2 separate regions of the Homo sapiens genome follow, and region 1 is reported to be linked to region 2. The links are microRNA targets in miRTarBase. Many come from high-throughput screens and were not tested one by one. Region 2 holds a microRNA gene; the other region holds the end of a gene's coding sequence.
What was found. The annotated mature microRNA hsa-miR-5586-5p reads UAUCCAGCUUGUUACUAUAUGC and lies in region 2 at 1,588-1,609, opposite strand. An mRNA with a match to its seed (bases 2 to 7 or 8) in the 3' UTR can be bound and repressed. Matches are read on the target gene's strand: a 7mer-m8 pairs with bases 2 to 8, a 7mer-A1 pairs with bases 2 to 7 and ends in A, and an 8mer does both.

Region 1 (5,233 bases), not on the chromosome of region 2:
GGATCCTATCTAAGGTGCACAAAACCAGCTGTCTCCTGAACTCCTGGAGAGAAAAAGGCACACACCCACGTTACTTAGTTTCTTTTTCTGCCCCTCCACACCATCAGCCTGGGATATACCCTGGGCTCCCAAACTCAGAGGGGGTACTAGGTAGGCTCAAGTTAGACCTATGAAGCACTTCTCTGGGAGGCCTGGCTGGGGAAGCTGGTGAGACTGGAGGAGGTGAGTAACGGAGGCTGCCATATCGGGGGGAGTGGGGGATTAACAAGAAGACCTCTTGGTTTGCAGGTTCATGACTCTAGCTCACAAATACTCCTTAAAAAACACAAGAGCAGCCACTGAGAGGCCAGGATGGGAGCCAAGGGGCCTGCACACACACACCCAGCCGCTGCGTCTTCCTGTGTCCTTAGTGTGGCTTGGCAGAGCCTGGCCAGAGCCCATCCTCTCCCTTATACCTGGGCAGAGGCCAGGGGCTGTGAAGGTGGCAGCACCTGCAGGTCTGGTGCCTGTGAGCCCCAGGTCCGGTGGAGCAAGGAGAGAGGAGGATGCTGGATGATGAGAGTGGGAACCCTAGCAGCAAGGATGAGCACAGAAGGGGGTGCTGGCCAACGCAGCCAGGATTTGACCTAAGGATGGGGATCCCTGGCCCCCTGCTCTTGCCCAGAGCTGGTGGGGGGCCTCAGTGGGCCCCAGAACCAAGAAGAGAAAGGCAAGGCCAGTGGGGCCAGACATCTGTGTGTTGACAATAAAGTTTTGTGTTGGAATCAATGTCTCTGACTGGTGGATCTCCAACTCCTTGGGGCACTTGCCTGGGTCTAATAGGAAAGACAGATCTTGCCCCTCAAAATCCCGTTTGTCTGGTGGGAGAGTCACAGGCTGCCCTGAAGAGCATCCAGTCTAATGGGAGGGAGAATTGCACCCCTAAAAATTTCTGACTTAATGGTAGAGATATAACCCTTGCCCTCAGGGTCCTAAGCTTTGTGGAGGAAAGTCTGGTCCTCATGGGAGGGAGCCCCTGTCTGATGAAGGAGATGGCCCTACCTGCTCTCTCCCTGTCTGAAGATGGAGACTGGTCCTCACTCTGGGGAGCCCTTGTCTGATGGGATCACCAATGACCAAGTCACACAAGTACAGGCACCTCCATCCTAGGGCAATGGAGACTGACTACTTAAAATGTGGGTCCTGGCAGCTTCCTAGAGGAGAGGAAGATTTTGCGGGTCAGATGAATGAAGTCTGGTGGGGAACTTAGGACCTGTGAAGCCTATTTGGGATCTTCATACTCAAGGCCACTGAGAGCCTCAGCAGGTTCCTGAGCTATGCAATCTGGGGAGAGTCAGAAAATTGTGGCAGTTATGGGCAATAGAAAGAGCTGCCTTGGAGGACAGGAAACCTCGGTTCTGGTCCTTCAGTGAGTCACTTGGCCTTGTTTTCCCCATCTGTGCGATGGAGAGAGGGTGAGATTGATCTCCATCTCTAAAATCAAATAATCCCCTCTTATCCCAGGAAGTGGAAGACCCATGGGATCAGCTATGTCCCTGGGATGCAGGTGTCAGGGGATAGCCTGGAAGGCCTGGACATCTGCCCTGTTGTTCAGCGAAGCCTGACACTTAGGGGCCGTGGCGATATTCACCAGTTGGAATGGGAGTCCCCAGAGGTCCACTGATTGCAGCTGATGGGAAACCCCACCCCCCATCGTCCTCCCATCAGCATTGGTTCCAACTCTGAAAAGCCCCCTGGGGTCTGTTGGGAAGGAGTCTGGCCCCTGGGGATGGATGGTGCACTCAGTAGGCAGATGAGAGGCAGCAACAGAGCCAGCAGTGCCTTACTGTCTCGGAGCCGTTAATCTATTCCCCTGTTTGAGCCAGGACTTCTTCCCAGCACCCTCCAGGACCATCAGCAGCACAGAGAAGGGCACCCAGCGGATTTTGCTGCTGCTGTTGCTACTTACTGGAGATGGCGCCCTCAACCTGCCTGGTGAGTATCTACATACTCTTTCCACCCATCTTTCTCTGGGGGCCCTCTCAGCCCCTCTTCTTGTTGGCCAGAGAGGGAAGAAGGTGGCAGATCAGATGGTGTCTTCAGGAGGAGCTAACAGTTTGAGTATGGCTATCCTTCACCCCTAACTGTCTGAAAGGCTTGGAGCATCAGTGAGCTTACAGTCAGGAGCACAGCAGGGTGACCTCCATGGAGCTCCTGGCCTTGACCATCTATCTCCTCCAGGATGCTATTTTGTCTATCTACTCCCTTCATCTTGTTTGTCATCTCATCTGTCTCTGCCTTTGTCTTTCCCATCCGGGCCAACCTAACAGCCTGGAGTTTCAGCAGGCTAGTTCCTTCCCAAACTGGCCTGGAACTGAGGGCCCAGGAAGTCATACTCTCCCCTTCCCCTTCCCCTTCCCTACTCCAGCAAAGAGCAACTACCACTCCCCATGCCTTACTGAGCCTGAGTTAGGAGTGGGGCCCCGGATTCTGAGCTCCTAGGACAGTGCGGGGGAAGATATTGGGAGGTGGCTGGAAATTGTGTGTCTCATCACCCCTATGGTCTCACCTGATGGGTTTCCCATCAGCTACAATCAGTGGACCTCTGGGGACTCCCTATGAGTCCATAACTTTTACCAGGGACAGGAGCATCCTTGGCAAACTGTCCAGGAAGCAGACACCAATTCTGATGACAGGAGCAGCAGGGGATAATCATTCCCAATAGCAGTTCTACTCATTGAGTACCTACTAGGTGCTAAGCATGGTGCTGAGTGCTTCACACGCAGTATTTCATCCTCATGACCATCAGTGAAGTGGGTATGAAGAGGATATGTCCCCACGGGGGACTTATCCTCCATCACAGAACTGAGATCCTAACCCAGGTCTGACTTCAGAGCCCAGGTCACACTTCTCAAGGGAGCTTCTGTGGGCAGGAAACCTCAATATCATAAAGATGTCAATCCTCACTGAACCTATAATTGCAGGGCACCTCCAATCACAATTCCAACAGGTTGCTTGTAGAAATTGTTAAGCTGATCCTAACATATGTAAGGAAGAACAAAAGGCCAAGAATAGTCAAGATAATTTTTTTTTTTTTTTGAGACGGAGTTTTGCTCTTGTTGCCCAGGCTGGAGTGCAATGGCACGATCTTGGCTCACTGCAACCTCCACCTCCCAGATTCAAGCAATTCTTCTGCCTCAGCCTTCCGAGTAGGTGGGAGTACAGGCATGCGCCACCAAGCCCAGCTAATTTTTTGTATTTAGTAGAGATGGGGTTTCACCATGTTGGTCAGGCTGGTCTCGAACTCCTGACCTCAAGTGATCTGCCCACCTCGGCTTCCCAAAGTGCTGGGATTACAGGTGAGAGCCACTGCGCCCGGCCTGTCAAGATAATTTTGAAGCACAAGATGGGTGACTCACCCGACCAAATATTGAGGCTTACTATAAAGTAACAGTAAGATAATGTGGTGTTGGTTGGGGGAAAGATGGACTTTTCCATAAGGGGGCAGGGATAACTGATTAACTATATGGAAAAAACATAAAGTCAGATTCAGTGGAAACATCCCTCCCTGCAAATAAAAACTTGAGACCCCTATAGCAAGACATATAGGTTCAGTGCAAACTAGATCTTTGTTGCAAATGGACCCCACAGATGACTAGAGTTTACAATGCTCCTCCACACTGAGCCAAGTCCCTCACTAGGCTAAGAGGAACATGGAGGCCCAGAGAGAGGTGAGACCTTCCCCAGCGTCACCCAGCAAGCCAGTAATAGAGCCAGGTGTAGAGCGTAGGTCCCCCTACCCTTTCCAAGCATCCTTGCCAATTCCCCTGGCCTGTTGCAATCCCTTAGCTCTGCACAGGGCCAGAAGAAAGTGGGTGTGGGACTGGGCAAGGTGGCTCATGCCTACAATCCCAGCACTTTTAGAGGCCAAGGCAGGAGGATTGCTTGAGGCCAAGAGTTTGAGACCATCCTGGGTAATATAGTGAGACCTCATCTCTACAAAAAATAAAAAGAAGGCTGGGTGCAGTGGTTCACGCCTGTAATCCCAGCACTTTGGGAGGCTGAGGGGGGCAGGTCATGAGGTCAAGAGATCAAGACCATCCTGGCCAACATGGAGAAACCCTGTCTCTACTAAAAAAATAAAAAATAAATTAGCTGGGCGTGGTGGCACGCGCCTGTAGTCCCAGCTACTCAGGAGGCTGAGGCAAGAGAATCACTTGAACCCGGGAGGTGGAGGTTTTAGTGAACTGAGATTGTGCCACTTTACTCCAGCCTGGCAACAGAGTGAGAATCTGTCTTTAAAAAGAAAGAAAGAAAGAAAGAAAGAAAGAAAAGAAAAAAATCAGCTGGGCGTGGTGGCATGCGCCTATAGTCCCAGCTACTCGGGAGGCTAAGGCAGGAGAATCACTTGAACCCAGGAGGTGGAGGTTGCAGTGAGCTGAGATTGTGCCACTGCACTCCAGCCTGGTGACAGAGTGAGGAAAAAAAAAATCAACTGGGTGTGGTGCAATGTGTGTGCAATGTGGTGCGCCTGTAGTCCCAGCTACTCGGGAGGCTGAGGCAGGAGAATTGTTTGAACCCAGAAGGCAGAGGTTGCAGTGAGCTGAGATCACGCCACTGCACTCCAGCCTGGTGACAGAGTGAGACTCCATCTCAAATAAATAAATAAATAATAAAAAGAAAAATGTTAGTCGAGTGTGGTGGTGCGCACTTGTAGTCCCAGCTACTCAGGAGGCTGAGGCAAGAGGATCACTTGAGCCCAGGAGTTTGAGGCTGCAGTGAGCCATGATTGCACCACGGCACTACAGCCTGGGCAACTGAGACTCTGTCTCTAAAAAAAAAGTGAGGGTGTGGATGGTGCCAGAAAAGAAGGGTTGGTGCATCTTCAGAATTAGGCGATGGGAAGGACAAAGAATGAGCCTGCCACCTGGGCTGGGTCACTTCCAGTTTTTTTTCTTTTCTTTTCTTTTCCTTTTTTTTTTTTTTTTTGAGTTTTGCTCTTGTTGCCCAGGCTGGAGTGCAATGGCATGATCTTGGCTCATTGCAACCTGTGCCTCCCGGGTTCAAGCGATTCTCCTATCTCAGCCTTCCAAGTAGCTGGGATTACAGGTGTGTGCCACCACGCCTGGCTAATTTTGTGTGTTTTGTAAAGACGAGGTTTCACCATGTTGGTCAGGCTGGTCTCGAACTCCTGACCTCAGGTGATCCTCCCATCTCAGCCTCCCAAAATCCTGGGATTACAGGCGTGAGCCAC
Region 2 (5,527 bases):
TATGTTACATGTTTTCTACATGTTACATGTTTTCTATATGTTTGTTACATGAGTCCCTGTTCCCGTATCTCCTCACTGGGCAGGTTCTCCCAGCCTGGGTCTCCAGCCTTTCCCCACTGGAGCTATTGAGCCAGTAGCAGTTCTTCAGCTCTCTGGGACAGAGCTCCCAGTGGGAGGGGTGGGTTGCCATCTTTGCTGTCTCACAGCCCTCACCCTTCTTGTCTCCAGGCTCTAGAGAGTCCATGGGGACCCGGCACTGGTCTGAACCCCCAGCACAGAGCATCCACCTAATGGAAAAGTGTCCATACTGTTCTCCACGCAGGTCCTGGTCCTCACTTCTCTTCACTGGGCAGAGTTACCAGGCCCAGGACTCCAGTGCAACCACTCTGCCCCTGCCTGACCGCTTCAATCAGAGGCAGCCCAGCAGTTAAGAGAACACCTAAATGCAGAGATGAGAAAGAACCAACACAAGAACTCTGACAAGTCAGATGACCAGAGTGTCTTATATCCTCCAAATGACTACACTAGTTCTTCAACAAGGATTCTTAACCAGGGTTGGCTGGAATAACAGAAAGAAAATTCAGAATACTGATAGGAACAAAGATCATTGAGGTTCCAGAGAATGGCAAAATCCAATCCGAGAAAACTAACAATCAAAATAAAATGATACCGAAGCTGACAGATAAAATAGCCAGTATAAAAGAACTCATCTGATAGAGCTGAAAAACAAACTGCAAGATTTTCACAATGCAGTCACAAGAATTAACAGCAAAATAGACCAAACTGAGGAAGAAATCTCAGAACTTGGAAGACTGGCTCTTTTAAACACGACAGTCATATACAGATAAAGAAAAAATAATGAAAAGGAACAAATAAAACCTCTGAGAAATATGGGATTATATAAAGAGGCCCAAACTATAAATCACTGGCATCCCTGAAAGGGATTGGGGGAAAGCAAACAACTTGGAAAACATATTTCAGGATATCTTCTGTGAAAACTTTCCCAACCTCACTACAGAGGCCAACAGTCAAATTCAGGAAATACAGAGAACCTCTGCAAGATTCTCCATAAGAATATCATCACCAAGATACACAATCAGACTTTCCAGGGTCAAAATGAAAGAAGGAATGTTAAAAGCAGCTAGAGAGAAAGGGAACCCCATCAGGCTAGCAGCAGACCTCTCAGCAGAAACCCTACAAGCCTGAAGAGATTGGGGGCCTATATTCAACATTCTCAATGAAGAAAATCTTCAACCAAGAATTTCATATCCAGCCAAACTAACCTTCCTCAGTGAAGAAGAAATAAGATCCTTTTCAGATAAGCAAATGCTGAGGGAGATCATTACCACCAGATCTGCTTTACAAGAGATCTTGAACGAAGCACTAAATATGGAAAGACCATTACCAGCCAATTAAAAAAAAACACAAGTACAGAGGCCAGTGACACTATAAAGCAACCACACAAACAAGCTGGCATAAAAAACAGATAACAATACAATGACAGAATCAAATCCACACATATCAATAATAATCTTGAAGGGGTCTTGCTTCTTTAACCAGCTTGTCACTCTGTGCCCCATTTAAAAAGCATATAGTAACAAGCTGGATAAAGAAGCAAGGCCCAATGGTATGCTGTCTTCAAGAGACCCATCTCACATGCAGTGACATCCATATGCTCAAAATAAAGGGATGGAGGAAAATCTACCAAGCAAATGGAAAACAGAAAAAAGCAGGGGTTGCAATCCCAATCTCAGACAAACAGACTTTAAACAAACAAAAATCAAAAAAGACAAGAGCGTTACATAATGGTAAAGGGTTCAATTCAACAAGAAAACCTAACTCTCCTAATACGTATGCACCCAACACAGGGACACCCAGATTCACAAAGCAAGTTCTCAAGAGACCTGCAAAGAGACTTAGACTCCAACACAATAATAGTGGGAGACTTCAACACTTACTGACAGAACTAGACAGATGATCAAGGCAGAAAATTAACAAGGATATTTCAGACCCAAATTCAACACTGGACCAAATGGATCTGATAGATCTCCACAGAACTCTCCACCCCAAAACAACAGACTATACATTCTTCTCATCACCACATGGCACATATTGTAAAGTCAACCACACAGTTGGTTATATAACAATTTTCAGCAAATGTAAAAGAACTGAAATCATACCAAATTCACTCTTGGATAGCAGTGAAAATCAAGACTACAAAAAACTCAAAACATGCAGTTACATGGAAATTAAACAACCTGCTCCTGAATGGCTTTTGGGTAAATAATGAAATTAAGGAAGAAATCAAGAAATTCTTTGAAACTAATGAGAACAAAGATACAACATACCAGAATCTCTGGGACACAGCTAAGGCAGTGTTAAGAGGGAAATTTATAGCACTAAATTCCAACTTAATATCAAAAGTTAGAATCATCTCAAATGTATAACCTAACCCTGCAACTAAAAGAACTAGAGAAGCAAGAGCAAACCAACTCCAGAGCTAGCAGAAGACAAGAAATAACCAAAATCAGGGCTGAATTGAAGGAGATCAAGACATTAAAAGCCATGAAAAAATAAGCAAATCCAAGAGTTGGTGTTTTGAAAAACATTAATAAGGTAGTCCACTACCTAGACTAATAAAGAAGAAAAGACAGATCCAAATAAACACAATCAGAAATGACAAATGGGATGTTACCATTGACCCCACAGAAATACAAATAACTATTACAGACTATTATGAACACCTCTATGCACACATGCACACAAATTAGAAAACCTAGAAGAGATAAATAAATTCCTGGACACATATACCTTCTCAAGACTGAACCAGGAAGAAATTGCTTCCCTGACCAGACCAATAATGAGCTTTGAAATTGAATCAGTAATAAATAGTCTATCAACCAAAAAGTCCAGGACCAGATGGATTCACAGCTGCATTCTGCCATTAAAATAAAGAAAGAAGAGCTGGTACCATTCCTACTGAAACTATTCCAACAAAATGAGAAGGGACTCCTCCCCAACTAATTCTGTGAGGCCAGCATCATCCTGAAACCAAAACCTGGCAGAGACACAACAAAGAAAACTTCAGCCCCATATCCTTGATGAACACTGAGGCAAAAATCCTCAACAAAATACTTGGAAACTGAATCCAGCAGCACATCAAGAAGTTAATCCACCATGATCAAGAAGGCTTTATCCCTGGGATGCAAGGTTGGTTCAATATATGCAAATCAACAAATGTGATTCATCACATAAACAGAACTAAAGACAAAAATCACATTATTAGTTCAATAGATGCAGAAAAACTTTTGATAAAATTCAACATTCATTTATGTTAAAAACTCTCAATAAACTTTGTATTGAAGGAACATACCTCAAAATAATAAGAGCCATCTATGACTAAACCACAGCCAACATCATACAGAATGGACAAAACCAGGAAGCATTCCCCCTGAAAACTGGCATAAGACGAGGATGCCCTCTCTCACCACCCCTATTCAACATAGTATTGGATGTCCTGGCCTTAGCACTCAGGCAAGAGAAAGAAATAAATGGCATTCAGGTAGTGTGATGCCACTAGCTTTGTTCTTTTTACTTATGACAAGGCTAGAGTAACCAAAACAGTATGGTACTGGTACCAAAACAGATATATAGACCAACGAAACAGAACAGAGGCCTCAGAAATAATGCCACACATTTACAACCATCTGATCTTTGACAAACCTGACAAAAACAAGCAATGGGGAAAGGATGCCCTATTTAATAAATGGTGTTGGGAAAACTGGCTAGCCATATGCAGAAAACTGAAACTGGACACCTTCCTTACACCTTATACAAAAGTTAACTCAAGATGGATTGAAGACTTAAAAGTAAGACCTAAAACCATAAAAACCCTAGAAGAAAACCTAGGCAATATCATTCTGGACACTGGCATGGGCAAAGACTTCATGACTGAAACACCAAAAGCAATGGCAACAAAAGCCAAAATTGACAATTGGGATCTAATTAAACTGAAGGGCTTCTTCACAGCAAAATAAACTATCATCAGCATGAACAGGCAACCTACAGAATGGGAGAAAATTTTTGCAATGTATCCATCTAACAAAGGTCTAATATCCAGAAGCTACAAGGAACTTAAAACAAATTTATAAAAAAAAACCATCAAAAAGTGGGCAAAGGATATGAACAGACACTTCTCAAAAGAAGACATTTATGTGGCTAACAAACATTTGAAAAAAAGCTCATCATCACTGGTCATTATAGAAATGCAAATCAAAACCACAGTGAGATACCATCTCATGCCAGTGAGAATGGTGAGTATTAAAAAGTCTGGAAACAACAGATGCTGGTGAGGATGTGGAGAAATAGGAATGCTTTTACACTGTTGGTGGGAGTGTAAATTAGTTCAACCATTGTGGAACACAGTGTGGCAATTCCTCAAGGATTTAGAACCAGAAATACCATTAGATCCAGCAATCCCATTACTGGGTATATACCCAAAGGATTATAAATCATTCTACCATAAAGACATATGCACATGTATGTTTATTGCAGCATTATTTATAATAGCAAAGACTTGGAACCAACCCAAATGCCTGGCAATGATAGGCTGGATAAAGAAAATATGGCACATATACACCATGGAATACTATGCAGCCATAAAAAAGAATGAGGTCATGCCCTTTGCAGGGACTTGGATGAAGCTGGAAACCATCATCTGCAGCAAACTAACACAGAAACAGAAAACCAAACACTGCATGTTCTCACTCATAAGTAGGAGTTGAACAATGAGAACACATGGACACAGGGAGGGGAACATCACACACCAGGGCCTGTCAGATGTGCAGGGAAAGAAGAGGAAGAGCATTAGGACAAATATCTAATACATGCAGGGCTTAAAACCTAGATGATGGGTTGATAGGTGGAGCAAACCACCATGGCACATGTATACCTATGTAACAAACCTGCACATTCAGCACATGTATCCCAGAACTTAAAGTAAAACTAAAAAATAAAATAAAATGCATTGAAATAGGAAGACAGGAAGTCAAACTATTTTTTGTTTGCAAATGACATGATTCTTTATCTAGAAAATCCCATCATCTCAGCCCAAAAGCTCTTTAAGCTGATAAACAACTTCAGCAAAATCTCAGGATACAAAATCAATGTATAAAAATCACTAGAATTCCTGTACACCAATAACAGCCAAGCTGAGAGCCAAATCAGGAAAGCAATCCCATTCACAGTTGCCACAAAAAGAATAAAACACCCAGGAATACAGCTAACCAGGGATTGTAAGATCTCTACAATGAAAATTACAAAACACTGCTCAAAGAAGTCAGAGATAACACAAACAAATGGAAAAACATTCCATGCTCATGAATAGGAAGACTCAATATCATTAAAATGGCCATACTGGCCAAAGAAATTTATAGGTTCAAACCTATCTACCAATGACATTTTTCACCTAGGCAATACCACTCAAGACATAGGCATGGGGTCTGTAATCCCAGTACTTTGGGACTGA

Region 1: the mRNA of CATSPER4 is a reported target of hsa-miR-5586-5p. Seed matches in the 3' UTR shown: 7mer-m8 at 548-554.

The regions. Positions count from the first base shown.
Region 1 is chr1:26,202,201-26,207,433 of GRCh38, forward strand. It overlaps CATSPER4 (cation channel sperm associated 4), which reads left to right. Exons shown (of 10, transcript NM_198137.2): 10 at 289-764. The coding sequence ends at 342. Among named protein-coding and RNA genes, the nearest start is that of CATSPER4, 14 kb to the left of the region's middle. RefSeq lists an enhancer at 1-227.
Region 2 is chr14:59,645,412-59,650,938 of GRCh38, forward strand. It overlaps MIR5586 (microRNA 5586), which reads right to left and starts at 1,609; the gene lies at 1,551-1,609. The region is part of intron 3 of RTN1 (reticulon 1); the gene reads right to left.